Linked DNA regions of Homo sapiens: regions 1 and 2 are each linked to region 3. Evidence: fine-mapped expression QTL. A gene starts in region 3. Each other region holds a variant in brackets. All regions are shown on one strand. Distances are between the middles of the regions. Region 1 overlaps LOC124900954 (a long non-coding RNA gene). Region 2 overlaps SUB1 (SUB1 regulator of transcription). Region 3 holds the start of NPR3 (natriuretic peptide receptor 3).

What was found.
Region 1: its variant is fine-mapped to the expression of NPR3 in CD4 T cells (Kasela 2017, PIP 0.95).
Region 2: its variant is fine-mapped to the expression of NPR3 in blood mononuclear cells (TOPMed, PIP above 0.99).

What each region holds. Positions count from the first base shown.
Region 1 is chr5:32,563,013-32,573,728 of GRCh38, forward strand. It overlaps LOC124900954 (a long non-coding RNA gene), which reads left to right. Exons shown (of 5, transcript XR_007058719.1): 5 at 8,079-8,720. Among named protein-coding and RNA genes, the nearest start is that of SUB1, 17 kb to the right of the region's middle. RefSeq lists enhancers at 10,149-10,238, 10,529-10,588. The variant AAAGAAAGG/A (reference allele first, on the strand shown) is at 5,255.
Region 2 is chr5:32,592,645-32,601,525 of GRCh38, forward strand. It overlaps SUB1 (SUB1 regulator of transcription), which reads left to right. Exons shown (of 5, transcript NM_006713.4): 4 at 6,317-6,425; 5 at 8,361-8,881. The coding sequence ends at 8,440. Among named protein-coding and RNA genes, the nearest start is that of SUB1, 12 kb to the left of the region's middle. The variant T/A (reference allele first, on the strand shown) is at 6,307.
Region 3 is chr5:32,705,303-32,716,018 of GRCh38, forward strand. NPR3 (natriuretic peptide receptor 3) reads left to right here and starts at 6,019. Exons shown (of 8, transcript NM_001204375.2): 1 at 6,019-7,243. The coding sequence starts at 6,475. RefSeq lists an enhancer at 6,380-7,105 and a silencer at 6,981-7,275.

The DNA.
Region 1 (10,716 bases), 140 kb before region 3:
AAATCCTCTGTGCTCTGCCTAGTCATCCCTCTCTTCCCTGTAACCCCTGGCAACCACTAATCTTCACTGTCTCCATAGTTTCTCCTTTTCCAGAATGTCCAGACTTCTTTTTGTTGCAGATGAATAAAGGTCTACAATGCTTAAGCCACTGTTGGTCAGGAATTCTGTTATTTGCAGCCAAACACATCCTAACTGAATTATGTCCCAACTGGATTTTAAGTTCCTTGAGGCAGAGATACTGTATTTAATTTATTTGTATTTCTCATAATACTATGGAAGATTTTCTTACATAGGGTAGGCACAAGTTTAATAAATGAATGGATAAAAGGATAAATAATAACAATCTAGTCTGAGCATGGTGGCTCATACCTGTAATCCCAGCACTTTGGGAGGCTGGATGGGAGGATCACCTGAAGCCAGGAGTTGAGAGGCTGCAGTGAGCTCTGATTATACTACTGCACTCCAGCCTGGGCAACAGAGCAAGACCCCATCCCTTAAAAAAAAGGCAATCCAAAATACTCTGGCTCCTAAAATATGGGCCAGCTTGGCCATGGATTTGGTGGCCATCCGGTAGTCAGACCCCACATTACAATAGCCTAATGAAACCAACAAATCTTAGAGCTCGAAAGGACTATACAGCTCTGGGTCACTGAGCCCAAACCTCTCATTTTACAAATAAGGAAATAGATACACAGTGCTTAATTGATATTTGTTAGTGACAAATATAGTGCTAGGTCACCCTGTTCCCAGGCTAGTAATCTTTCCATTACATTGTGCTTACTTATCTTGGCTCTTGGTTCCAACCCAGGCTCCTCCATCCCAGAATAGCTCCAGGCTCCCCACATTAGTGCTCCAATATTTGTGGCCTAGGCCTACTTGAGATCTAGGCAACCATTCTGACTTTGAACTACCAGCAAAGGCCAGCAAGTACAAGGGGCTTGTGTAAGCATTGCGGTCATTTGGGAAGGAAATATGGGGATCTAGCAGGAGTTACAGTTTTAGGGCAGACTTGAACAAGATGGCAGCAGAGAGGTAGGTGCAAGGCAGAACTGCCTTCCCGTTTATCAAGTTCAGATCATCTCAGAGAGGCTCCCTAGGGGCAGTTGCCTATATTTCAGCCCTGATTCAGATCCTATTGTACTTGGTAGGTTTTAGGATTGCTCTGATGGTCAATTGTATGTGTCAACTGGGTGAAACACCAGTCTAGATGTTGCTGTGAAGGTATTTTGGATGTGATTAACATTTAAATCAGTAGACTTTGAGTAAAGCAGATTACCCTCCATAGTGTGAGTGGGCCTCATCCAATCAGTTGACAGCCTTAAGAAAAAAGACTGAGATCCCTCAAGGAACAGATAATTTTGCCTGCAAGCAGCCTTGGACTTGAGCTGTAGCATCGACTCTTCCCTGGGTCTCCAGTCTGCTGGTCTGACCTGCAAATGTTGGACTTGCCAGCACCCACAATCTCTCTCTCTCTCTCCACACACACACACACACACACACACACACACACACACACACACGCGCACACACACACACACACACACACACACACACACACACTATATCCTGTTGCTTCTCTTTATTTTTTGGAGAATCCTAACTAACAAAACTACCCTGAAGTCTAAAGATGTATGGCCATTGTACTCCTTATCAGTTGTTAGGGTAGATATTTACAACTGGTGGGGATGACTTTGCCCTCAGACTCTGTCTTACAGGGGACAAACAGGAAGCATGGAAAGAAATACAGTGCACCTTGACAGCACAGTTTAAACAGCACCTGGAATCTTCAACATCCTGCCCTTAAGGAACCTGTTTTAAAGCGGAGTTTTCTTTCCCCATTGTAACTTTATGTCTATTCTATTCATCCTTCTGCTGTGGTTTACTTTTCTCACTCTTATGGGGAAACTGCAAAACAGCTGCCTCCCCAACACCCCAGACTTCTTCACAGGGAGACAGTCAAGGAAATGTTGACATGCCTTGGGAATTAATGGTCCATCTCTGTTCTTTCCCAGAGCTAATCACTGAACCAGCTGTACAGGAGGTATCAGGAGAGGTGCTTTAAGGATGCTCAGAGACCTGGCTTGAAGCAATGAAAAATTGATGTTGCTGAGAGGAGAGAACTGCAGAGCAGCAACTGCAGGCAGAACTAGCATGGGTGGGGATGGGGGCTGGAGGAAGGGGAGAAGGTGGGGATGGCAGGCCTGGGCCTCCTTATAAATAGCAACTTGATTACCTTGACAGCCATAAGATAGGACATAGGGGCTGCAGAGAGGGGTGGTCCTGACAGGCAGTTTCTCTCCATGCAATGTACAATGTGCACCACATTGCACTTCCTCTTTGGTGTCAGAGGTAGTTAAAGGCCTATTATCTATGTGACTACCATGGACACCAGATGCATAAGAAATGATGCTAATCACTTCCCCACCTTGTTGTGAGCATCCATGGAGAGGATGTTGTGTTGAAACACTTGAAGCTGCACCAACGTCCATTTTACTATTATCTTTGGTTCCTAGAAAAAACTAACTCCTTTTTTTCTCTATAAATTACCCAGCCTTAGGTATTCTGTTATAGCAACACTAAACAGACTAAGTATCAAAGTCTAAACAGGAATTTTTTTCTTATTATGATTAAAAACCATATAACTTCTCTTGATAAGGCTGTCCCAGAGAAAAAAGAAAACAGTCTGAAAACACAGGAGAAAAAATGAATCCAGGGTTATTTTATAATTACATTTTAAGCTCATGCTCTCTACAAGGGTTGGGAAGAGGGGCCAGTTTGTATTACTACATACAATAAATGTATATGTATATTGTATATATTATTATATACAATAAAATTATATATAGTATATATATAACTTCATATATAAAAAATATATAATTTCATTTATAGAGCACACATATATATGAACTTTTTAGGTACGTGTAAAGTTCAACACTTTAAAACAATTGTCACCTATCTAATGATCTCCATTGAGATTCCCTGAATTGCAGAGTTAAAAAGATGTAGCTGTTGGTATCATTTTCAGATAAGAAGGGTAGGACGAGGGAGCATCTGCAGGTGAGTTTTTGTGGATGGAGAGGTATAAGGTGTTTTGGAAGTCTCTGTGAGGGGCACAGTGAGCTCCCTGTGTCTCCCCTCCTCCACTAATTTAGGGCTTCCATATAATATATAAAAATCCATTTGTAATCTATTTTTGGTTATTATTCTAGGGTAACAGGAATGATGAGTTACTGTTCTGTGACATGTCATTTTGAAGAATACTATTGCCTTTCTTCTCATTCAGAGTTAACAGGAATTCTATGATGGGAAAGTTACTTTGATGAACTCAGCTGAAGCACTGATAACTCCCCAGAGCTGTGGTTCTCAGTCAGGGACTATTTCTGTTTCCAGGGAACATTTGGCAATATATTGGGACATTTTTTTGGTTGTCACAGTTAGGGCAGAGATATCACTGACATACAGTGGGTTGAGGCCAAGAGTGTTGCCAAACATACTACAATGCAAAGCAGAGTCCCCACTGCCAAAGACTTATCTGACCCCAAATGTAATGTTGTCAGGGTCGATGAACCCTGCACAAGAGCAAATCATCAGTCTTTCAAACCGGCCCCTCTTCCCAACCCTTGTAGGGAACATGAGCTTAAAGGTTAACTTTCAAACATTCCTGGATTCATTTTTTCTCCTGCATTTTCAGATTGTTTTCTTTTTTTCTCTGGGACAGTCTCATCAGGAGAAGTTACATGTTTTCTAGTCATAATAAGAAAAAGCATTCCTGTTTAGACTTTGATGGTTAGTCCATTTAGTGTTGCCATAACAGAACGCTTAAGGCTGGGTAATTTGTAGAGAAAAAAAGGTTTACTTGGTTCATGATTCTGATGGCTGGAAAGTCCAAGATTGGACATCTGCATCTGGTAAGGGCCTCAGGCTGCCTCCACTCATGGTGGAAGGCAAAGGGGAGCAGGTGTTTGCAAAGATCACATGGTGAGAGAGGAAGCAATGGAGAGAAGGTGATATGGTTTGGATGTGTATTCCTGCCCAAATCTCATATTGATACATAATCCCCAGTGTTGGAGGTGGGGCCTGGTGGGAGGTGATTGGATTATGACATGGCTTTCTCATGAATGATTTAGTACCATCCCCCTAGGTACCGTCCTTGTGATAGTGAGTGAACTCTCATGAGATCTGGGCATTTAAAAGTGTGTAGCACCTTCCCTACTCTCTCTCTCCTGCTCTGCCTTTCACCTTCTGCCATGATTGTAAGTTTCCTGAAGCCTCCACAGAAGCCAAGCAGATCCCAGCACCATGCTTCCTGTACAGCCTGCAGAACCATGAGCCAATTAAACCTCTTTTCTTTATAAATTACCCAGTCTCAGGTATTTTTTTATAGCAATGTGAGAATGGACTAATACAGGGTGGGAGGTGCCAGGTTCTTTTTAACAACTGGCTGTCTCCCAAGAAGTAATAGAGCTAGAGTGTAACTCACTCACCCTTGAGGGAGGGCATTAATCTGTTCATGATGGATTCACCCCCATGACCCAAATTCCTCCCACTAGGCCCGACACCACCATATTGGGGATCAAATTCAACGTAACTTTTGGGGGGAAGAAATAAGCCATATCTAAACCATAGCAGATACTTTTAATCCTTATTTCTTTTTCACCTTTTGCTTTGTTTTACCACCAAACTAGCAAAAGAGCCATGCACAGGCAGTCCACAGAATCCAGGTCACACAGGGGTATGAGCAGCAAGGCCTCCTGGGTGCCTCCTGTGTCCTCACAGAGATCTTCTTGAGGTCCCTGCAGGCCTGTTGCAGGGAGGAATCCCCTGGGGTGTGGCCTCCTTTTTAAGACACTTGAACTTTGATGACTTGAAAGTTAACCTAAAGAAGCCGGGCACAGTGGCTCACCCCTGTAATCCCAGTGCTTTGAGAGGCCGAGGTGGGCGGATCACCTGAGTTCAGGAGTTTGAGACCAACCTGGCCAACATGCCAAAACCTTGTCTCTATTAAAACTACAAACAATTAATGGGGCATGGTCGTGGGCACCTACAATCCCAGCTACTGGGGAGGCTGAGGCAAAAGAATCACTTGAACCTGGGAGGCGGAGGTTGCAGTGAGCCAAGATTGTGCCACTGCACTCCAGCCTGGGTGACAGAGCAAAACTCCATCTTAAAAAAGAAAAGAAAGAAAGGAAAGAAAGAAAGAAAGGAAGAAAGAAAGAAAGAAAGAAAGAAAGAAAGAAAGAAAGAAAGAAAG[AAAGAAAGG/A]AAGGAAGGCTGGACGCGGTGGCTCACGCCTGTAATCCCAGCACTTTGGGAGGCCGAGGTGGGTGGATCAGAAGGTCAGCAGCTCGTGACCATCCTGGCCAACATGGTGAAACCCCGTCTCTACTAAAAATACAAAAATTAGCTGGGCATGGTGGCGTGTGCTACTCGGGAGGGTGAGGCACGAGAATCGCTTGAACCCAGGAGGTGGAGATTGCAGTGAGCCAAGATCACACCACTGCACTCCAGCCTGGTGACAGAAGGAGACTCCATCTCAAAAAAAAAAAAAAAAAAAGAAATAAAGTTAACCAAAAGCAAAAGCAAATAGTAGGAGACATTCAGCTTTTGTTTGAGTGCTCCCCTGGGTGAAGGGATGCCTTGCTTCATCAAAATGTCTAGACTCAGAAATTAAAATGTCTTCAAGGGCTCATAATAGGAGGAAGATTGATAAATTATACCGCTTAAAATGTCTTTCTTCACATTGTTCAGGGTTTGGTAAACTCCTCAAGACCTCAAGGCCTTGCTTATCTATAAGCTATCCAGAGCTGGGGACTGGGGTGAGAGAAAGTGAGGTGTCTGTTGTGTAAAATTTAAGAAGTAAGGAGACACTTAGGGTGATGCAAGTCCAGGGTCAGTGTGGGCACCAGGCACCTCTCTTGCTTCATCTGAGTACTGATTTTGAGGCTCTCCAAACTTTAAGAGGAGCCAGAGCCGCCTTCTATCACTGGAAAGGACACAGGAGGGTACAAAAGGCTTGGAAGACATTCCCAGGGCCATGAGTAATCTTTTTCTTCTTCTTTTTTTTTGAGACTGAGTCTCACTCTGTTGCAAAGGCTGGAATGCAGTGGCGTGATCTTGGCTCACTGCAACCTCTGCCTCCCAGGTTCAAGCGATTTTCGAGCCTCAGCCTCCTGAGTAGCTGGGATTACAGGCATGTGCCACCACACCAGGCTAATTTTTCTTTTTCTTTTTCTTTTTTTTTTTTTTTGTACTTTTAGTTGAGATGGGGTTTTACCATGTTGGCCAGGCTGGTTTTGAACTCCTGACCTCAAGTGATCTGCCTGCCTCAGCCTCCCAAAGTGCTGGGATTACAGGCATGAGCCACCACGCTTGGCCACCATGAGTAATCTTGAACCACATTTTGTCTAGCTTTGGAGATAAACCCTTACTGGGTCTCTCGGTCTCAAAGTTTCCCCTCAGCTCTGACACAGCCTGTTTGTAGTTTAGGGTTATTTTACTTATTCCCCATGATGTCTGTGTTATCTTTCCATTTCCAGATTGTTTATACTCTTCTTTCAGGCTCTCCAAGTAGTATTTCTCTTTTGGCCTTCTGAATCTTATGTTTCTCAGTTTGCTTGCTCCTTTTTCAAGGCAATTGCCAATGTGGTCATCCTTTTTTTTTTTTTTTTTTCCTTGCACTTAATAATTTCTAACTTACTATTTGTGGTAGGTTGAATAATATGTCAATCAATGGTATCCATGTCCTAATCCCTGGAACCTCTTGATTTTATCCCTATAAAGCAAAATAATTTTTTTGCAGATAGGATTAGGTTAAGAATCTTGAGATGGAGAGTTTATTTTAAATTATCTGGATGAGCACTAAGTGTAATCACAAGTGTCCTTATAAAAAGGAGGAAGAGGGAGATTTCATTATGAAAGTAGGAGATGGGACACAGAAGCAAGAGCTTGGAATGATTCAAGAAAGGGGCCATGAACCAAGGAATGCAGGCAGCCTCCAGAAGTTAAAAAAAGGCAAGGAAACGGATTCTTTTCTAGAGCCTCTAGAAGAAACCAGCCCTGCCAACACCTTGACTTTAGCCCAGTGAAACTGATTTTGGACTTCTGAACTCTGGAAATGTAAAACCCTAAATTATTGTTATTTAAAGCTACTGAGTTTGTGGTAATATGCTACACCAACAATAGGAAACTAATATAATATCTTTATGTCACAGTAAGTAGTGCAAACACATTTCTACACTATATACTCCATGAAGGAGGCAGCATCACCTGGAGTTAACAGTACTGGCTCTGGAGCAGTCAAACCTGGGTGTAAATCCTGGCTGATCCCTGTAGTAGACATTTGTCCGTCTCTGTCTACCCAGGCTTTTGAACTTTCTTCCTGTATGAGGCAGAATGTGTTAGTTGCCTTCCTACTGTTCACTCCTCATTTTCCATTACTAACAGCATCCTAATTTGTACAGAGTGATAAATTTCACCATCTTAGGAATAATCAAATTTTAGTCTGGGCACCGTGGCTCATGCCACGTAGCTTAAACTCCAGCACTTTGGGAGGTCAAGGCGGGAGGATCGCTTGAGCCCAGGAGTTCAAGACCAGCCTCGGCAATGTAGTGAGACCCCATCTCAAAAAAAAAAAATCCTGTTTTTAAAAATAAAAAAATAAAAAAAAATATTTTACAGTCTTCCTTGAAATCACAAGCAGCCACTGAAATAGTTCTTGTCAAGTGTTCATTTCTGGGAGAGACTTCAGAGGGGGCCTAAAAAGGGGTTAATTTGACTGGCATGCACCTTTGTCCTTTGACTTATCCTTCCTTCACAGAATGCCACACGCTAAGGATGGTGGTGTGGAAAGGAAGATATATCTTGGGTCGCTAACGGAATTGTGAGGATGACCTTCTAACTCTGGACTGTATCCTCAGACTTCTTGCTTTGTGAAAAGAATAAGGGCCTAGTTTGGTTAAGCCACTGGTTTTTGTGTTCTCTGTTATGTTAACCTTATAATTCATTATTTCTTTCACTCTAGTGGAATTTCTATTTTTGATTCTAGTATTCTAGTACATTGTACATGTATCTGTCAACAGATTCTAAACTCCCTGAAGGAGACAAATTACCAGTGGACAAGAACACAGCCTCTGGAGTCCAATAGGCCTGGTGCATTCATTAGGGTAAGTGGTGCTAGGTGCTATAACAGATAAACCTCAAATTATTTGTGACTTCACACAATATAACCTTATTTCTTCACTCATATGAAGTCGTTTTTAGTACACATTGCCATTTATGGACATAGGCTCTTACCTTCTCATGATTCTTTGCTGCTTAATCTGGCTAGAGTGGTTTCCTGATGTACACAGTGACAAACTCAGAGAGACACAGCTACTTACTAGATTGAGCTATAAGAAACTGATGACATATGAACATAAATACTGTCTACAAAATGGCAGTTTCACATGATTAAACCTAACTTCACATGTGATTTTGAGCAAGGGACTCTCTAAATCCATTTCTTTAGCTATAAAATGGGGTACCAATACTCATTCCCTCCAAGGAGATTATAAAGATCAAATAAGAGGATGTATGCAAAGAACTTCGCATACAGGCTGACACAGAGTCAGTAACTCAAACAGGTTAGGTATGATTTACCCAATGCCTAGCACAGACTCTCTGGCACATACTAGCTATTCTTTAATTATATATATGCATGTATGTATGTATAAATTGAGATAGAATTCACATACCATAGGCTGGGTGCAGTGGTGCTGTAATCCCAGCACTTCAGGAGGCCAAGGCAGGCGGATCATGAGGTCAAGAGATTGAGACCATCCTGGCCAACATGGTGAAACCCCTACTAAAAATACCAAAATTAGCTGGGCATGGTGGTGTGTGCCTGTAGTCCCAGCTACTCCGGTGGCTGAGGCAGGAGAATCGCTTGAACCCGGGAGGCGGAGGCTGCAGTAAGCCGAGATAGTACCACTGCACTCCAGCCTGACAACACAATGAGACTCCATCTCAAAAACAAAAACAAGTCACACACCATAAAATTCACCCTTTTAAAGTTACAATTCAGTGATTTTTAGTATATTCACAAAGTGATATAGTCATCATCACTGATTCCAGAACATTTTTATCACCACAATCAGAAACCTCATACCTGGCTGGGCGCAGTGGCTCACGCCTTTGGGAGGCCAAGGCAGGTGGATCGCCTGAGGTCAGGAGTTGAGGTCAGGAGTTCGAGACCAGCCTGGCCAACATGGTGAAACCCTGTCTCTACTAAAAATACAAAAAATTAGCCGGGCATGGTGGCGCATGCCTGTAGTCCAAGCTACTCGGGAGGTTGAGGCAGGAGAATCATTTGAACCCAGGAGGCAGAGGTTGCAGTGAGCCAAGATCAAGCCATTGCACTCCAGCCTGAGTGACAGAACAAGACTCTGTCTCACAATAAAAAAAAAGAAACCTCATACCTGATAGCAAGACCTTGTCTCTATTTAAAAAAGAAAAAAGAAAAAAAAGAAAAAAGAAACCTCATACCCATTAGCAGTCACTTTACCTTTCGAATGAATCATCTTTGTTTCAAAATGGCTGGCATAGTACCTTGCTCTTCGAATTCACTCTGTATTTATTGATTCTATTGGCATCTCCTGTAGAGTTGACAAAACATTTCTTGTTTATTCAACAACAATGGATAGTATGTCATTTAATTTGTCATTTAATATGTATGTGTGTGTATGTGTGCACACACACACAGCCCCCCCACATTTATGCTCAGGGAATCAGATTCTCCCACACCAAAATAATAAAATGACAAAAATAATAATAACAATAATATTGTTGATAACAATCCTGGTTGTGCATTTTAAAATGACAGAAGGAGGCTATTGTGATATGATGCCATGGGCTTTCCACCTCTGAGAGAATTCACAAAGGAGGCTGGAAAGAAGCGCTCCAGTTTCTACATTCTCACGTGCAATCACCTTCTTTCTCTCCTTGTTGGCAGTCACTGCAGCTCAGCTTGCTGAAAGAGAAGAAACTGAGCCAGTGTCTAAGAGGGTGCCTCAAAAGTTCCTCGACTGTATTAATCTTTTGATTTTAGAACTTTTATAAATAGCACTACTTTGAACACACGCAAAGAAGGGCAAGTCAAAGTGAAAATAGCCCAGTTCTTCTTCTTAGCTAAGAATGCCTCCTTTCTATACCTATGAGATTGGACAGGATGCATCACTGGGGGACTTTGCTTGATTCTGTTCAGAGTCGCAGCTGTAAAAGCAGGTGCATTTTTTTTTTTTGCCATTTGACATTCTTAAAGAAAAGTCATCCTGGAAAACAACCCAATTTAGTATTTGCATTACTCTGCATGGTTGATGGTTTCAAAAGATTAATGTTTATTTTGGGAACGGTTCATCGTTTTTATCTTTGAAACAGTCAACTTCTCTTTTACACCTGCTGTGGCTACGAGAGCACTGTGCTGGCTTGGGTCCTTCATTAAAAGTGTGAGCCGCTGTCAAGAAGGAGAAAGAAATACTGTGCACTTCACTGAAATATATTACCTTTTTTTTTTCTTTCTTTTTTCTTTTTTTTTTTTTGAGACAGGGTCTCACTCTGTTGCCCAGGCTGGCCAGTGGAGCAATTACAGCTCACTGCAGGCCTTGACCTCCTTGGCTCAAGTCATCCTCCCACCTCAGCCTCCCGAGTAGTTGGGACTACAAGCACATGCCACCATGGCCG
Region 2 (8,881 bases), 110 kb before region 3:
GTTAGGAAGAATGGACCAGAGGAATTAGGCAGTCAGTGAAGATGTGGACTTGATTGTGGATGTGATTGAAAAAAAAAATGGTGTTGCTTCTGTAGCACCTGAAGGGCTTAGTTGGGAAATGTTCATGTGGGATTATCAGCATGGTTGACTAAAGCTGCCTACTGAAGTATTAAACAGAGGAAGAACAGGAAGCAGATGAGGGGATGTCTTGGGTTATATTCAGATAGAGAATGGAAGGAAAAAGAGGATGTAGGTTAAGAGAGAGGGTGAAGGAAAATTAGAAGAGTGCAGTAATGGGAGCAAGAAAAGGATGAGTGTTTCCAGGAGCTATAAGTATTAGTTGAAACCAAAAAGTTGGGTGGAACGAGACTACAATTTTTTTTTTGAGACAGGGTCTCTGCTCTGTCACCCAGGCTGGAGTGCAGTGGTGTGATCTCTGCTCACTGCAACTTCCGCTTCCTGGGCTCAAATGATCCTCCTGCCTCAGCCTCCTGAGTAACTGGGACTACAGGCAATGCTCCATGACGCCTGGCAAATTTTCTTTGTTGTTGGTAGAAACAGTATTGCCCAGGCTGGTCTTGAACTCCTGAGCTCAAGTGATGCGCCCACCTTGGCTTCTGAAAGTGCTGGGATTACAGGCGTGAGCCACCGTGACTGGCCAAGACTGTAGACATTTATATGACTAGAAAGTAAGGCTAACACATGTATATTTTGACCTGTTGATAACTTTGAAAGGTGGAGTGCCAAGATTAAGGTGAGAATGGGAAAATTTAAGTTTTTTTTTTCCTATTGCTTATTTTTGCCTTGTTATACTTCTAGGTAAAAAAGATAGACAAAGTGCAGATGAACTATTTAGTTCAGAACACACATTTTAGAGATTCTGTTCTGTTAAGAGGAGTTTTGTGAAAACTAGATCTAATTTTAGGAATTTTCTCACCAGAAAAACGGAGCTTCATTTCTTAAACCCTCATCTGGAAAGATTCCTAAGCCTCCTAAGGCTGACATTGCACCTTTTGAAAGCCTGCCTCTAGGAGGAACATAGGTCATCTTTTCTTTTTTTTTTTTTTGAGACGGAGTCTCGCTCTGTCACCAGGCTGGAGTGCAGTAGCACGAATCTCGGCTCACTGCAACCTCCGCCTCCTGGGTTCAAGAGATTCTCCTGCCTCAGTCTCCTGAGTAGCTGGGACTACAGGCATGCGCCACCACCCCCAGCCAATTTTTGTATTTTTAGTAGAGACGGGATTTCACCTGGTTGGCCAGGATGGTCTCGATCTCTTGACCTCGCCATCTGCCTGCCTTGGCCTCCCAAAGTGCTGGGATTACAGGTGTGAGCCACGGCGCCCAGCCTAGGCCTTATTTTCAGAGTGGCTTTCATGGATCTAGTAGTGTAGGCATTATGAAATAATATGATACTTAATTTCATTGCCATTACAGCTTGATGTACATCAAACATCAATACATAAGCAGTTCTCTAAATGTATTAAAGAGTTGTACCAAAGAAAAATCAATAGACTTATCTTTTAAAGTCTGAAGTGATTGGGGCAGAATCGTGACTAGAGAGAAGATACTAGAGATGCTTACTTCCTGGTTCCTTCAGCTCTGATTTTGAAGAACTTTCTTCCATAGGGATGTAGTCTACCTGAGGTGACATCTGTGATAGTAAAGAGACTGGAGAATTATCTCATAATTATTTAGTACCTGTGTCTTGAAAGGTCAGAATAGTTGAGGCAGGAAACTTTAATCCATATTTTTCTTCAGAGTTAGGCACAAAGGGTCAGTAATACTGCTTTAGTTTATTTGATGATTTAAGGATACTTGATACTTTTAAATTATTTAATTTAAAATGATTATAACTGGTCATTTTAATCTGGGGCAGGAGTCCATAGAATTGTTTTTTAATTTGAGTTTTCTTTTTTGTGTTTGAAGGAATTATTCATAACCTTTATCACAGGGGTCCCTCCTGCACAGGAGGTGAGCGGTGTGTGAGTGAACATTGCAGCCCGAGCTCTGCCTCCTGTCAGATCAGCAGCGGCATTAGATTCTCATAGGAGCGCGAACCCTATTGTGAACTGCGCATGCAAGGGATCTAGGTTGTGCGTTCCTTATTCCTTATGAGAATCTAATGCCTGATGGTGGGATAATTTTTATCCTGAAACGATCACCTTTCCCCTTCCCTACCTGCTGTGGAAAAATTGTCTTCCGTGAGACTGGTCCCTGGTGCCAAAAAGGTTAGGAACCACTGCTTTATCAGATCTTCAGAGGGGACAGGGAATCAAATTCGTATAAGAATCACAGTTCTTTATGATGTATATGCTATTTTTTGCTGCTAATCTCCAGATTTTGTGGATATAAAATATATTGTCATCTGATTTTATTTTTTTCCAATAAAATGTGATTTCAGTGATCTTTATTTTTTCTATCTTTAAGTAATATATCCCTATACTACTATCTCATCACTTGTTTAATTTTTGCTAATAAGAATTTGTCAGTTTTACTCTTTTTTTCCCCCCAAGGGAGAGGCAGCTGTTGGGCAGATTCCTTTTTTTTTTAAAAAAAAAAATGTTTTTGAGGTATAGTTTATGTCCAATAAAACGCACACATTTAAAAGCATACCTTGATAGGCTGTGGTAAATGTACACGCCTTTGTGGCCAGACCATTTTCATCACCCCAGGAAGTTCCTCTTGGCTTTACAGTCATTGCTCATGTCCTAGGTAATCACTGATCTTATTTCTACCACTATAGATTTATGTTGTCTCTTCTAGAACTTTGTATAAATGGATACATGCAGTCTATTTTTTGTGTCTGGCTTTTGCTCAGTATAATGTGTTGAGATTAGTTCTTGTTGCATATATCAGTAATTTTATTGCTGAGTAGTATTTTGTATGATAATACTACAACTTGTAAATCCATTCACCTTGGGTGGACATTGGGATTGTATCAAGTCTTGGGCTATTAGGAATACAACTGCTGTGAATATTCTTGTACAAGTCATTTTGTGGACATTTTTTCCCTTTTGGGTAAATACCAGATACATTTGCTGAGTCGTAGGGTAAATGTGTAACTGTATAAGACACTGTCAAACCATTTTCCATAGTAGCTGTAGCATTTTACACAGCCATCGGTACTACTTAGGAGATTCCAGTTGCTCCACATCCTCGCTAGATATTGTCAGTCTTTTAAGTTTTTTTCTTTTTAGTTACATTGAATGTATAATGGTAGCTCATGGTGGTTTTACTTTCCATTTCCCTCATGTACATGTCTTAATTCATTGTACATCTTTAGTGTGTTTATTGGTTATTTTTATATCTTTTGTGAAGAGTATCTTTTGGCCACTTAAAATGCCAGGTCATTTGAGTTGTAACACTTTATATATTTTGTCAGATGTAAGTATAATTAATATTTTTTTTAGACTTCAGGGAAACTTTAGTTTTCAAAGCAATCTAGTTCAAAAATGAGTGGAGGTTAACAGAGAGGAAAATATGAAACCAGAGAGAATCAAACAGACAGAATAAGGGGGGACTGGCAGTTGGTCAGGGGCGTCTGTGACAGATCTTCTCTCTCTTGGAAATGAGGTCCTCACGGATTCTGGTCAGTTCATCATTTTCTTCACGTCCACGGTTCTGCTTCTTCCTCAGGCTCTCCTCGAAGGCCAAGACCCCTGTGGCTCCAACTTGAGTGAATATTTTCTTTAGGTTTCTGGTTTACCTTTTTATTTTCTGAAGCATCTTTTTAAAAAAGGCTTTAGTGTGATTGTCTATTCTATCGATTTTTCTCCTTTTTTGCTTAATGCTTATTTTCTGTCCAAGACGTATTTTGCCTACCATGGCCACAAAAATTTTTGCCAGTGTTTTTTCCTAGAAGTTTTATAGTTTTAGTTTTCACATTTAGGTCTATAATTCATGTAGAATTAATTTCTCTGTGTATGATGTAAGATAGAGATTTAGAGTCTTCCCCACCCCAAATGCAGATAGCCTGTTGTTTCAACACCATTTGTTGAAAAGAGTATTCTTATTCCTTTGAATTACCTTGGATTTTACCCCCTCCCCCCAAAAAAATCAGTGAATATATCCAATGCGTGTGTATTTTTTGACTCCGTTGTGTTCCACTGACCTCTTATGTCTGTCTTTACTCCAGTACTGCATTGTCTTCCCTTACTATATTATAGTGAGTCTTGGAAAGTGCTAAGAGACACTTTGTTGAGGAAAGCCTGTTCTTTTCTCTGGAATTTGTAATTTGTGGTAAGCAGATATATAAGATTTTTGAAAAATAATTTTCTGTGAATATTTTTAAGTTCTCAATCTGACTGTGAGTGAGGTGCATTAAAGATGTTATTTGAAGTGAACATGAAAAGGAAAAACTTGGTTGTTATTGACTGGAACTCTGGATTCGTATATTCAGAATGGTTGGTGAAGCAGTGTAGCTAGTTGCATCTGTGGATTCCTCTTGGTTGTAGTTTGTACTGCAAAATATTGCTTCCTAATGATTTTTTTTTTTGCTGGTAAAAACCATAAAAGTATATTCACATTGTTGTGAAACAGATTGCCGAAACTGTTTCATCTTGCAAAACTGAACCTCTGTGGCCATTAAACAACAGTTCCCCTTCTCCCAGCCCTGGTAACCACCATTCTACTTTTTGTTCCTGTGAACTTGACATCATGTAAGTGGAATCATAAAGTATTACCTTTTTCCTTTTTATGACTGGCTTATTTCATTGACGTAGTATGTAACAGGATTTCCTTTTTTAAAAGCTAATTGATATTCCATTGTGTGTCTATTCCACCCCCCCTCTCCCATTTTGTTTATCAGTTCATCTCTGGGTGGATATTTGTGTTGTTTCCACTTCTTGGCTCTTGTGAATAATGCTGCTATGAACATGGGTGTGCAGATGTCTCTTGGAGTCTGTGCTTTCAATTTTTTGGGATATATATTCAGAAGTAGGATTGCTGGATCATATGATAGTTTAAACAGCAATTTCCTTTGGTTGCAGTTTTGATACTGAGAGTAGTACAGTTGACCCTTGAACAATGCAGGGTCAAAATGCAAGGCACCAACCCCTGTGCAGTTGAAAATCTGGTTATAACTTTTGACTTTGTCAAAACTGCTAAGTATAGCCTACTGTTGACTGGTAGCCTTAACAGTAACATAAACAGTTAACATATATTTGTATGTTATATGTATTATATACTGTATTCTTACAATAAAGTAAGCTAGAGAAAAGAAAATATTACTAAGAAAATCATAAGGGAGAAAAATTACATTTTACTGTACTGTATGGTGTTTATCAATAACATTAGTTTACGTTGTCTGTTTATAAGATATGTCATCTGTTAATAAAATATGTCATCTGTTAGAAATTGTAGGCAACCACAGCTGCAGATTTCAGTCCGTGGTACATATCAAGCAATTCAACTTTTTTATTTTTATTTTTATTTTTATTTTTTTGCATTTTAAAATTAAAGACAGGATCTTGCTGTGTTGCCCAGATTGGATTCAAGCTCCTGGGCTCAAGTGATCCTCCGGCCTCAGCCTCCTGAGTAGCTGGGATCATAGGCATGCACCACTGCTTCTGGCAGTTTTTTTCTTGTGATGTCATGCCTTCTCTCTGCTTCTTGGGAGCACTTTCAGCATCACTAGGGGCACTTTGTATAGGACTCATGGTGTTATTTAAAGTTTATGGTATTGCAGTAATCATGATGAAAAATAATGTGAAAACCGTGAGAGATCACTTTTTACTGCAATACGCAATTTGTTGGAGACATGAACTGCTCAGCAGAGATGATTAGCATCACATGGTGTTTTACACAAGGTGTTTTAAGCAGATACTTGTAACATTTGAGTACACTGAGATAACAGGAAGTGGCTATGAAGTTAACACTAGTACACTACTGTAGTTAATTTTATGCAGTTATGAATTAATACTCCATCTTTGTTTACATTTCTCTCTAACTTCATATAATAGATTTGTATGTTTTATGATAGTAAGTGATAAAATAACCTCATATCTAGGTATGTTTTATGCATTCATGACATACCTAACTTTTTCTTAATGTTTTCGTTATTTCTAGGCTATGCAGTTGTTCTGTGAGTTTTTTCAAATTGTCAAGTCTGCAAAAATTTTTCCAGTATATTTATTGAAAAAAATATGCATATAAGTGGGACCTGCACAGTTCAGAGCCATGTTGTTCAAGGGTCAGCAGTAGTCATTTTCATGATTAGATGTAGAGTGAGCATGCAGCAAGTTGTGAATATGAATACAATTGAAACAGATACCACTCTTGAAAGGAGCACCTCTTTTTATGTTTGTT[T/A]CTTTTGCAGATTGGGAAAATGAGGTACGTTAGTGTTCGCGATTTTAAAGGCAAAGTGCTAATTGATATTAGAGAATATTGGATGGATCCTGAAGGTGAAATGAAACCAGGAAGAAAAGGTGAGGTCTAATTACTTGAATTTTATTACAGTGTTAGGACTAAACGACAACTTTTCTGAGTAGCTTACTTGAAATGTTGGCAGGACACACGGGGCAAGGAAGAGTCTTACTCAATTGATTCTCTATCTTCTGTAGTTATTTTGGACATGATACTTAACATTTTTTTAATGAGATGTCTTAATACAGCTTTTGGGAATAAAACCCAGAAAAGTAACACCCCTAATATCACTTCAGTTGGCTGCTAATTTACTTGAACAATTTTTAAAAAGGTTTATGCAATTCTGAAGCAGATTAGGCACTATCTGGGAACTTGTAAAATCAGGAATGGAAAATCTTGGTTTACAATGCTTCCTTTTGATTCAGCTCCTAAAAGCTATTCTTTAGGGCATTACTCTTCAAGCGGATCTCTGCTTTCCTTCCATTTGTGCTTCATCCAGTCCCAAGCCTCTTAGCATTGTAGAAACATATTTTGTATAATTCACCAAACAGCTAGAGAAGGTGAGCCAACCTAAATTTGTATATTTGGATTGCTGCTCTAGGTTGACCCTCAGCTAAAGAAAAATGCTTCCTTATTTAGTTTTATTCTGCCTGCCTGTTAGTTTGAAAGGTACCACTTGTTTGCTTCATGCAGTTTTTTTTTTTTTGGTTAAACTCAGCCTCTATATGTGTTTATATGCTTTCATATTTTCTTCAAGTCACTTCTGGATTGGTAATTCACGTACCAGAGTGGCCGATGCCATATTTCTTGTTTATTCTTTTTTTTCAATTTCATGGCCTTCCAGCAGTTTTCTGGGAATACTTTCTGCCAGTTCTTGTTTACTTCTCTGTTTATATGCGTCGGTATTGGAATGCTAGAACGTTAAAGTACAAAATATAGAAAATATAAAATTTCTGTTCATACTTTTACATCTTAAACTGGAAAGACATATCTCACATTTTTTAACCATTTATGTGTTAGGTGATATGCTAAGTTCATTATTCATGTTACTTAATCATTTACAACAACTCTTTGGCGTATAGATGCCATTTTACTGGTGAGGAAACTAAGGCTTACAAGGTGATGTAGTTCTTTTTTAAGGGTCATACACTTAGTGAAAGTGAGGCTGGAATTTTAACCCTGATAGGGTGACCCTAGAGTGCAGTTACCCGGGTATACTCTCTGAGGAGTCCTGTATGAATCACGTCCTGGGAATTTTTCCAAAGTGAAATGAATGCTTCTGGAAGAACTCAGCACAATTGGCTTGAATTCCTGTGGAAATTTTGGGCAAATATTGGAACCAGCTGGAAATATAGTAATGGGGTATCACATGCCAAATCTGGACCTGACCATTTTAGCCTGATAGTTGACGGGTATTAGTAAGATGTGTCTTCAAACCCTTATTTATTCTCATTGGTTACAATAGGTACTATGCAGGATGCACTGTGGAAAGTAAGACTGGATATGAGATTGATAATGCTCAGTAAATTGTGATGATATGTAATTAACAAATGTAAGAGATATGATTTTCAGTATTGTAGCATTGTGTCCAAGTGGCAATTTTTTTTTTTTTTTTAGATGGAGTCTTGCTCTCTTGCCCAGGCTGGAGTGCAGTGGCATGATCTTGGCTCACTGTAACTTCCACCTCCCAGGTTCGAGCAATTCTCCTGTCTCAGCCTCTTGAGTAGCTGGGATTACAGGTGCCCACCACCATGCCCGGCTAATTTTTGTATTTTTAGTAGAGATGGGGTTTCACCATGTTGGGCCAGGCTGGTCTTGAACTCCTGACCTCAAGTGATCCACCCGCCTTGGCCTCCCAAAGTGCTGGGATTACAGGTGTGAGCCACCGCGCCCAGCCTAAAGTGGCAATTTTGATAAAACAGTATTCTAGTTGGAAGTATGAAAATCCTCAACGCTTAAATAGATTTTCACCTTTGAATTTTTAAACTTTGTTTTAGGTATTTCTTTAAATCCAGAACAATGGAGCCAGCTGAAGGAACAGATTTCTGACATTGATGATGCAGTAAGAAAACTGTAAAATTCGAGCCATATAAATAAAACCTGTACTGTTCTAGTTGTTTTAATCTGTCTTTTTACATTGGCTTTTGTTTTCTAAATGTTCTCCAAGCTATTGTATGTTTGGATTGCAGAAGAATTTGTAAGATGAATACTTTTTTTTAATGTGCATTATTAAAAATATTGAGTGAAGCTAATTGTCAACTTTATTAAGGATTACTTTGTCTGCCCACCACCTAGTGTAAAATAAAATCAAGTAATACAATCTTAACTGTTGTGGCCTTTTTTGATCATAAGAGTTGGTACTGTTTAAGGCCAAAAGTAACAGTTTTTATAGATCTTTTAGTTTCAACTCAGCTTTTACAATAAAAAGGATTTGTATTGCATTGAGTTTATAAACTTTTGGTTTGTGAACTTCATATTTGATCTTTTCTCTTCCAATCAAATGTCTAGGCTTGTTTGA
Region 3 (10,716 bases):
AGAAAAAACAAACTAACCAACCAATCTTGTTTGTGCCTGTATTAGTCTATTCTCACACTGCTATAAAGAAATACCTGAGATTGGGTAATTTATAAAGAAAAGAGGTTTAATTGGCTCACAGTTCTACAGGCTGTACAGGAAGCAGGATGATGGCAGTCTGCTCAGCTTCTGGGGAGACCTCAGGAAACTTACAATCATGGCAGAAGGCAAAGGGGAAGTAGGCATGTCTTACATGGCTAGAGCAGGAGGAAGAGGGATGGGGAGGGGGAGATGCTACACACTTTTAAACAACTAGATTTTATGAGAACTCTATCACCATGACAGCACCAAGGGGGATGGTGTTAAACCATGAGAAACTGCCCCCGTGACCCAATCACCTCCCACCAGTCCCCTTTTCAAATATTGGGGATTACAATTCAACATGAGATTTGGGGAGGGACACAGATTCAAACCATATCAATGGGGAAGACCAGCGATTAACAGCAGAAACAATAATCAACGCCATAGATATCTCAATTGGTTCAGCTTCCACATTTCCAATGGAAAAATTAAAGTTCAGCAAATATTCCAGTCAATGGGTGCCAAAACTGTTGCAGCCAGATTAGTTGAAGACAAAAGCAGAACTTTCAATGGAAATTTTAAACAAGTGAAATATCCCAAAGCATTTATTTGGAGAATTGTCCCTGCCAAATCTCATGCTGAATTGTAATCCCCAATGTCAGTGGCGGGGCCTGGTGGGAGATGTTTGGGTCATGGGGGCGTATCCCTCATGACTTGGTGCTGTCCTTGGCAATAGTGAGTGAATTCTCATGAGATCTGGCTGTTTAAGTGTGTGGCACCTCCCTGCCAACCCTGCACTCTGTCTCAGCATGTGAGGTGCCTGCTCCCCCTTCGCCTTCTGCCATTCTTGTAAGCTTGCTGAGGCCCTCGTCGGAAGCCGAGCAGATTCTGGTGCCATGCTTCTTGTACATCCTGCAGAACCATGAGCTAATTAAACAACTTTTCTTTATAAATTAACCAGTCTCAGTTATTTCCTTATTTCAATGCAAAAATGGCCTAATACACAGGGGGATGAAACACTGCTTTACCAACATGATCCTGAAGACAAACACAATTAAAGCAGTGGCTACCAAGAGGTGGAAGTGGTCAAGAGCCAAGGTTATGGCAATGGTTTCTTGAAATGCTTAAGGCATTTTGCTTGTTGACTTTCTGGAGGATCAAAGAATGGTAACTTTTGTTTATTTTGAGAGTGTTTTGATAAAGTTAGTCAAAACTTTGCCTAGAAATGTCTGGGAAAGTTTCGCCAGAGACTTCTTCCCCACCACGACAATATTCCTGCTCATTTCTGTCATCAAACAAAGGTGATTTTGTGAGAGTTTTGATGGGAAATCATTAGGTATCTACCTTATAGTCCTGATTTGGCTCCTTCTGACTTCTCTTTGTTTCCTGATCTTAAATAAATTTGTAAAGGGCACTCATTTTTTATTTTTTTCAGTTAATAAAGATTGCATTGACATGCTTAAGTTTCCAGGACCCTTGGTTTTTTAGGGATAAACTACATGGTTGGGATCACCACTCAGAAGAGTGTCTTGAACTTGATGAATCTTTTGTTAAGAAATAAAGTTCATATTTTAAATTTTTATCTTTTAATTCCATTTTACATGAACTTTTTGAAGTCCCCATTCACACTCGTTTTTGTGAATATAATAATCTACATAAATTAACTTGTCTATAAATCAATGATATGAGAATTCTTCATATAGCTTGCAAATCTTATGCCAGTATTCAGGTTAAATCACTGACTAGCTATACGTTTTTCAGAAGTCTTTCTAATGTCACTTTGCCTCAGAACATCTTCAAAGAAGTGAAAAAAAGATGGTAGTTGATGGAAATCTAAGAGGATTATAATAAAGAAACAACTCTGTGTTTTCAAAAGAACCCCTTAAGGTCACATTTAGCTGCAGCTTCTGATGAGATTGAATTATAAATTTAATTAGAAAAATATAAAATTACTATTATTTATAGTGCTGGCAAATTAAAATAATAGATTTATATAATAGAAGAAAAAGAGTAAGTTAATAAAGTCCCTGCTAAGGAAAGTAAGAACCTAGAGGCAAAATTTTAATTTAATTTTTTGGCATCCATTGATTTTTTTTCCCCACTTCTTGAATAGTTCACTCTAAAACAGCAACTATATGTAAAGAATGAAATCTCAACACTGATTACATTACAGAAATGTTCTTGAATTATTTGTAATGTTCTTTCATCTTTTCTGCCTCTAGGGGGGAGTGTGTTTTCAACAATTCTGGCCTCAGAAGGTATTTTATTGTGGGCCACAGGCTTCACAGGGGTATTCTCGAATACAACTTTAGGGCTGGCTCAACAAGGGAGAAAAGGACCTCTGAAAATCTAGGTGGGTTCTTAGTTTAGAGGTTGCAGCCAGGATGCCAAGGGAGAAGAGTTGCAGAGACTGTTACAGTTGGTGGTGGAGAAAACTTACTTCTGATAGAATTTCTAATACACTTCAAAGAATCACATGTTAGTTTTCCTATATTAATGCTGTCTTTCCTGGTAGTGAGAAATAACATATAGACAGTAATTTCATTTCATAGAGCTGGAAAATAAACCGTTGAATACTTTATAGAAAACTTGCCACCTTATTGTAGTAGCTTGCCACCTTATTGTAGTAGCTTTAAAAAAAAAAAAAAAAAAAACAACCCAAACAACAAAACATGGTTTGTGGATATTAAGTAAAACATTTCTAAACCTCATAAAAAGTCTATTAGTTTCTGAAATATCCTGTTTAGAGCTAACATTGTCTTTCTTTCAAATGGCTAATTTTCTTTCATTTTGCAGCATTTTCCCATAACTTTCCTTTGGTTTCATTCAACAACTGAAGCCAGAAAGGAAGCACCTAGTAAAAAGGTTACCACTCTTTTGAATGTTAAAAAAATACTTATTTTTCCCCATTTCAGTGTTTTACAGAATTGAAAGAAATAATATTTAAAAATTGAGTCAAATAAATAAGTTATTTCTATTTTTTCCTTTTGATTCATTTTTGTGATTAAAGTGCTGCAAAAATTCTATTACAAAATGTTATTTTTGGGTTTATTGTGCTGTATTAGCCTCCAAACTTAGCTATATATATATATAAAAATTTGATATAAAGAATGTTATTACTTAGAGTAGAAATTAACTTTGTTCCTAACACTTTCACATGATGTAACTGGTGGTCCTTGGTTTACTTTGAATACAATCCCATTTAAAAATATTCTCAGGGGATGAAGAGGTATTTAAGTATATCACTTATACTGTTTGGGCCTTAATTCATCTAGAGAGTAAGGGGTGTCAGGCTGGGTGACTTAAGTCTTCTGGCCTGAAGATTTAGAACTACTTATTTACACAAACTTTCAGTTGGTTGCAAAAATTCTAACTTGATGGAAAGTAAACAAACCCGTAACTTTGAAATCCATACACTTACATTACTTGGTGGGTCTTCCCATAATCTTGTGACTCTTTTCATTTGAAAAGGTTTTTTAAAAACCCTAATTGTTGCTCACTGGAATTCTTAAGGGGTGTTTTGAGCTTCAGCAAAAGCATAACACTGGCTTTTTTTTTTTTTTTAATTCGTTCCGCTGCTTGGTTTGGGGTCTCTTCCCTTCCGCAGCTTGGTCTTGTTGCTGCTCTTGAGTGTGACAAACTGCAAGTCGAGAGCTCTTGTCCAAAAGCTGCGGAGAGGCTACGGGCACTCACCCTTACTTAAGCGCACTGCCCTGCTGTTGAACTGCAGGCGAGGCTAGGTAGCATCTGGGATGGGACAGGCGTTCACACCGGTGCCACTGAAACCCCAGACTCTCCGCATAAACCCACACCACACGCGGCAGAATCATATCGCCATTGGCTGGTGTTCCGCAGACACAGGGCATACCGCAGAGTAATAGGAAACACTGGTTCCTACCACTGTGGCCAGTGGTAGGACTGGGTCTCCGAGGCAGGACCTTTCTTGGAGTCTCGGAACCCCAGCACAGTGCCTGGCAACCAGTTTCGAAATCCATTAAGACCCTTGGAATTCATGATTTAGTTCTTGTTTTGTTGTTGTTCTTTTTCTTTTTTTTTTTTTTTAATCTGTGCTGCCATAAACGCCTGCCCTTCTGCAAATTCAGGAAAGATTTAATTGCTGTGGAGCACTAAATCTCAATTTCCAGTGTGTGTGGATTACCCTGTTTGTGGAATTAAATTTTATACAGATGTCTCTTTTGCTCCTGGTTAGTGGCTCTAATTAAATAAATGGAAATTCTCGCAGGAATTAGAAGCTCCTACTTAACAGTGAAGATTTCGGGATCACAGTGCATAATCTGAATATAAATGACCCAGAAGCTGAAACATTACCCATAATCACATTGACGGTTCCAGAAAGAGCGATAAGGAGAGTGCTGTTAAGGGAGGCGAGCGCTGACGCCAGAAGTTGCCATATCCCCAGAAACCCCAGTTTGCCTTTTCACCGTCGCAAGTGAGAACCAGAGCGCGTTAAAGGCCTCGGAGTAAAAAACGCAGCGTCTGGGACTGCGGCACCCGGGTTGAGTCGGGTGCAAGTTTCTGCCGAAAGAGGGCGTCGGTCTGAGACTAAAAGAAATTTGTGGACACGGACGCCTAGTCAAATGAAAGACCATTTTAACACATTTTCAATGTATTTAAATGTGCGGGACTTAATTGTCAGAATTCTCCCGCCCAGTGTAGCCCGTTCACATTGCAAATGACTTGGCTGCAGTAGGCACAGAAGGTCCAGTTCCATTTTGACCCGCCCCGCCGCGCGGCGGACTCCCGCGATGCTCCTCTGGTCACGGACTTCTCCAGAGCCGCTTCCCTCCGGTCTCCACCGCTGCTGTGGCTATGGCCAGTGGGAGGACTGGGTCTCCGAGGCAGGACCTTTCTTGGAGTCGCGGAACCCCAGCACAGTGCCTCGAGCGCTCCAGAGAAGGAGCGGTTGGATCTTTGAGCACTCAGGTTGGAGGGGAGCGTGTGTCGTACCCGGGGGACCTACCGGGAACGTTTTGGGAAAGACAGTCCCTTTATTTAGGTACCTGGTTTAGCAAACAAAGCCCCGAGGACGCTTTGGGGATGCTTTCCAAGCTTTGTGACACCTCCAGAAGTTGAACCATTCCCTCGCCTTTGGGAGCAACAAGTTTCACTTTCCTGCTCTCAGTGCGCTGACAGAGGGTCCGTGAGCTGGGACACTGTGACCTCGGCACCGCTGCGATTCCAGCGCAAACCTGCGTGGCCCAGGGGGAGGGGGCTGGCGCGGGGCTGAGGAAGGCGGGGTGTAGGTGACGCCCGGGCCAGCCGGGCACACCAGGTCCGCGATGGAGCCATCTGCACTGGGACCTTGGTCCTTGTTCCCTGACCTTGCGCCGAGGGACCAGGAAGGTCAGGTGCTCGCCCCGCGTCGGTGCTTCAGGAGGGAATGTGGCCAGAACGAGAAAGGTGAGAGCAAGCGGCACCTAAGGATTTTTGCACCGAAACCACAATTTCTAGAACCATCCCTTTCCCCCAGTCCTGGTTTTTTTTTTTTTTTGCACGGTGTGTGTGTGTATATGTGTGTGTGTGTGTGTGTGTGTATGTGTGCGTGCGCGCGCGCATTTCTCTACTTTAAAGCACGTTTCCTTTTTTGAAGCCAGGAGCTGGAGAGCGTGGAAAGGGAGAGGCGGTGATCGCACAGGCACGCGGCGTGGTGGGGGCTCTTGCCGGTGCAGACGTGGGCGATTTCAGCTTTAAGGAAAAGGCAGAGGGCCTGCGGGGAGTGGTGGTTAGGGACAGGGGCGCGATGGGTAGTGAAGGGGTGCAGGGAGGAGCCCTGATGTAAGAATGTTAATGAGAGACTCCCCCAGCCCAGCCCCCACATCTCCCCACCCCCACCCACCCCACCCGCTGGAAACACAAGCCCGGCCTCGGCGCGCCATGTGTGGTAACACGCTCAGCCGCTGCCACGCTATTTAAACGCGGGCTATGGATCCAGGAACCGGCGCGAATCAATGAGATCAAATGCGAGGGAGATGCACCGTCAATTACAAACACTTGGACAAGTCTAACTTTTTTTTTCTTCTACAAAAACGCTTTCAAAAGCAACCTTAGCAACGCCCAAATAAGAAGCCACCTCTAAGCAAAATAGTATATGTATAAACGGAGGGCGAATATATACAAGTATATATATATGTATATTACAGACGCACAGGTTTACACCCGGTGAACTTTTTCTTTTTCTTTTTCTTTTTTTTTTAAGAAAAACTAGTGACATTGCAGAGAAGGACGCTTCCTCTCTATCTTTTGGCGCATTAGTGAAGGGGGTATTCTATTTTGTTAAAGCGCCCAAGGGGGCGCAGGGACCTTGGAGAGAAGAGTGGGGAGGAAAGAGGAAGGGTGGGTGGGGGGCAGAGGGCGAGTCGGCGGCGGCGAGGGCAAGCTCTTTCTTGCGGCACGATGCCGTCTCTGCTGGTGCTCACTTTCTCCCCGTGCGTACTACTCGGCTGGGCGTTGCTGGCCGGCGGCACCGGTGGCGGTGGCGTTGGCGGCGGCGGCGGTGGCGCGGGCATAGGCGGCGGACGCCAGGAGAGAGAGGCGCTGCCGCCACAGAAGATCGAGGTGCTGGTGTTACTGCCCCAGGATGACTCGTACTTGTTTTCACTCACCCGGGTGCGGCCGGCCATCGAGTATGCTCTGCGCAGCGTGGAGGGCAACGGGACTGGGAGGCGGCTTCTGCCGCCGGGCACTCGCTTCCAGGTGGCTTACGAGGATTCAGACTGTGGGAACCGTGCGCTCTTCAGCTTGGTGGACCGCGTGGCGGCGGCGCGGGGCGCCAAGCCAGACCTTATCCTGGGGCCAGTGTGCGAGTATGCAGCAGCGCCAGTGGCCCGGCTTGCATCGCACTGGGACCTGCCCATGCTGTCGGCTGGGGCGCTGGCCGCTGGCTTCCAGCACAAGGACTCTGAGTACTCGCACCTCACGCGCGTGGCGCCCGCCTACGCCAAGATGGGCGAGATGATGCTCGCCCTGTTCCGCCACCACCACTGGAGCCGCGCTGCACTGGTCTACAGCGACGACAAGCTGGAGCGGAACTGCTACTTCACCCTCGAGGGGGTCCACGAGGTCTTCCAGGAGGAGGGTTTGCACACGTCCATCTACAGTTTCGACGAGACCAAAGACTTGGATCTGGAAGACATCGTGCGCAATATCCAGGCCAGTGAGAGAGGTGAGCAGGGGCGCGTCCCGGGCCCCGGGCCCTAACCCAACCGCTCTCCGCGGCTCTCCCTGCACACTCGTCCACTCTGCAGACCCCACTCCCCACTGCGGCGCTGAGGTCGGGTGCGCGCGGGCACTCGTTCAGGTATGCGCCGTGTGGCTGCGACAACCTTTGACGACCGCCCATCGCGGTGTACGTAGAGGGTCCCAGGGAGGTGAAGGGGTTGGAGGAGAGGGCGTCTGTAGCTCCTGCGTGCCCAGGTCCAACAGGTGCTGTCAAACACTTCGATGTTTTTTCTTCCCAGTTTCCACTTTGCCAGCGCCGGGCTGGTGATTAGGGGGCGCACTCCCAGTGCCTGGCTCCATCCAGGGTCTGAAGCATCCGAGGCGGAAAGAACTTGTTCCCCAGTCCTTTGCCAGCGTGCGCCCCCACTTAGTGCGGAAGCGTCCGCGGACGCCTCGCAGCGAGGCGTCGCCACTTAGCTCGCCCGCTCTTGGGGTTTCTCTGACTGTTGTTTCCACAGACCCCAGGTTTCTTTTAAAGGCTTGTTGACTCACTCTTCTCATTCCTTTCATTTCCCTTCCAGCCCCTTATAAACGAGCTTCTGTGGTTTCCACCAAAAATGCCCCTGTGTGTCTGAATTCTGGCGACACTCACTTCTCCCAGAGTGTTCTGCAACGCAGTTTCTAATGCGCCCAGAGCTAAGCTTTGCGGGAGTGCCTTTTGAAGAAACGAGCGCTGAACCTTCTTTCCACCTGTCCCCCAAGTTTTCTCCATGGGTCTTTGGGTGTTGGAATAAAACCCAAACTGGACAAAGAGCTCGAGGCTGAGGATGGTGGCTATGGCTTCGGGGAGCGGGGGGACGCGGACGTGTAATCGCCAGTGTGGCCCATTTTACGGTAGGGTAGAATCTGAGGGAAGGCGGACTGAGATGCCGGTATAGCGCCGATCCCTCCTCCCTCTAGTCAGGGATTAGGAGCACTGCGATGAGGGAATCCCGTCTCTGCTCCCCCTTGGCGCTCACGCGCCTGGAATGTGAGTGGTGCAATCCCGGCAAAGCTCCCCGAGACCCCAGTGCCACGCGGATGAGACCGAAGGGGAGCGGAGTTGAGCCAGGCGCCGGGCTAGTCCACAACTTGGCATGGCCGAGCACCTGGGCGCTGGTCGTAGGGGACAGCGCAACCTGAGGCCGAAGGCCCCAGGAACAGGTGAGAGTGGACAGAGAAGCCATCGATAATGGCGCTGCTGTCACCGCCTTGCCATCTTGGCCACCTCGGACTCACCCTTTAGAGCAAAGAGGCGAGAGGTGTTTGACAGTGGGAATGCATGGCCAAATTTTGAGCTCTGGAACTCCAGGCTGTCTGTGCCGAATTCCTACCAGCCAAGCAGGCGGGGCGCAGGCTTTGCCGATTATGAAAAAGGGCACGTGTGTCCAACGGCTGCGGACTTGCCACGCCTGCCACGCCTCGGCAAGGAACCCACATCTACACTCCCAAGTCCCAGTCGCCAGGTTACTGCAGCCTCCACGGGGGTGTCTGCGCCCCGGGCTGCTAAGGCTCCCGGAACCTGCTTCTCCAGTTCTCGGCTTTCGAGGGCTAGGCGCTAGAAGTCAGAGACTTCCCAAGGCCGGCTGGGACTGGGGGTGTGTCCCCCTATGGGCGAGATCCGCGGTTTGCTGACTCGTCCGTAATGTCACTACCCTGTAGATCCCAATGTCAGCGGCTGCCCCGGCGCACGTGGCCTGGGATACAAAACCAAGGGCATGTGTGAGACCAGAGGAGGGCAGATCGCGGCCCCGGGGCCCCTCGCCCTCACAGTGGTGGCTGAGGCCTGGGGCTGGGCGGACAGCAGTGCCCTGGTGGGCCTGGGGACTGGTGCGCCCCGGGCTTCTGAGGACTAGGGCTGCAGTCGGCTGTAAGAATTATTTTTTAATTCCAAAAGCCTCATAGACGTTCCGAAGTCTCTTTGCTTTTTTTTTTTTTTTCCAAGTTTGCATTGAGGGGTGAAAGTTTGCTTAACTGACCTGTATATTTTACAAGTGATAAGGTTAGGATTTTACAATTCTTACTCTAAAAAGTATTTCCAACAGTGACCTGGCAGATATTTAGAAATAGGAAACAAAACAGTTTCTCCTCTAATCGTCCTCCAATCGCCTCTAATCATCCTTCCACCCCGAAATTCCTTACACTCGAGAGAAAAAGTTACTTGATAACAAAGCTCTCTTAGGGGACCTTTTAAAAATACATTGAAGTAACACAGTTACTTTACCGTAAGCACTTAATGTATTAAATAGGGCTTCGGTACATGATTGCAGTGAAGTTTCTGGCTCAGTCACCGGCTGGGGGATCTTGGACTGCTATGAAACCTCTGTACCTCGAGCTCCTTAGGTAAAGTGGGGGTAGTCAGAGCACCCACGTCTTTGGGAAACTGTGAGGGTTACAGAAGCTAACCCAGGAATGCCTGGGAGCACTGCCAGAAGAATATGAAGTGCTCAATAAATGTGCGGTTTCATTGTAGTTATTATTTTATATATGATGATAATCACCTTTACCCCAAGGGTGAGGCCATGCCATGGGAAAGAACCCTGGGCTGAGATGCAGATGCCTCTGGATTTGGCTGGCCTCCTTATGTGAGTTTTCTTCTCTGTGAAACAATGTGTGGGGTGAGAATCAGGCCTCTTCAAACTGATATTCTCACCCAAGTGTGAAAATGCAACTGACAGTATTTTTGCTTTTGAAAATTCCCTATTAAGTATTATGAATTAAAGTAGAGAGAGTTCCTCCCTCTTTTGGTGAGAACATTGGTATTACTTTTTTTTTGGACTTAAGTTTCTCTTTAAAACCAAATCACAAATGTTTGAACAAGTAAAAAACTGACCGTGCCAGCATCTCAAATAATAATGCGACTAAAATTTCACATGGCATACTGTAGAAAGAAAAACAGGGGCATCAATTATTCCTTCATTTTAAGGATTTACCATCTAAGTCAATAATTTAAAATCTTTTTTTTTCCTGTCATGTCTTTCGCTAATGCCACTAAAATAAACAGACCTGAGCCTATATTATTTTTAAAAACAATTATCTTTATTTAAAATAGATTCACTTACACAGCCAGCTACTGCCCTCAATATTCCACACACTTAACAATAAATTTAGTTTTAAAAAGACAGGCTTAGAAATAATTTTTTCAAGCAATACAAGCCAGTAGTTGTTTTGTCGATGCACTTTATATGATGCAGAACTAGAAGTATCCTAACGCAAATGTTTTTATGTGAAGAACTGTAGTTTTATCCTTTTAGTTATTAGTATGTCATTAATCTGGGCCTGCATAATGACTGTACAACATTATACAGTCTGTAGAGATAGAGATAACAGTATTTAATCAATACAAGAAACATTTATTTTTAGAATTAGTCTGGGGTAAATGACCGAGTGGTCAATCAGCAGCATTTTTAAGGAAAGAACCCATGATAAGTGTAAAAT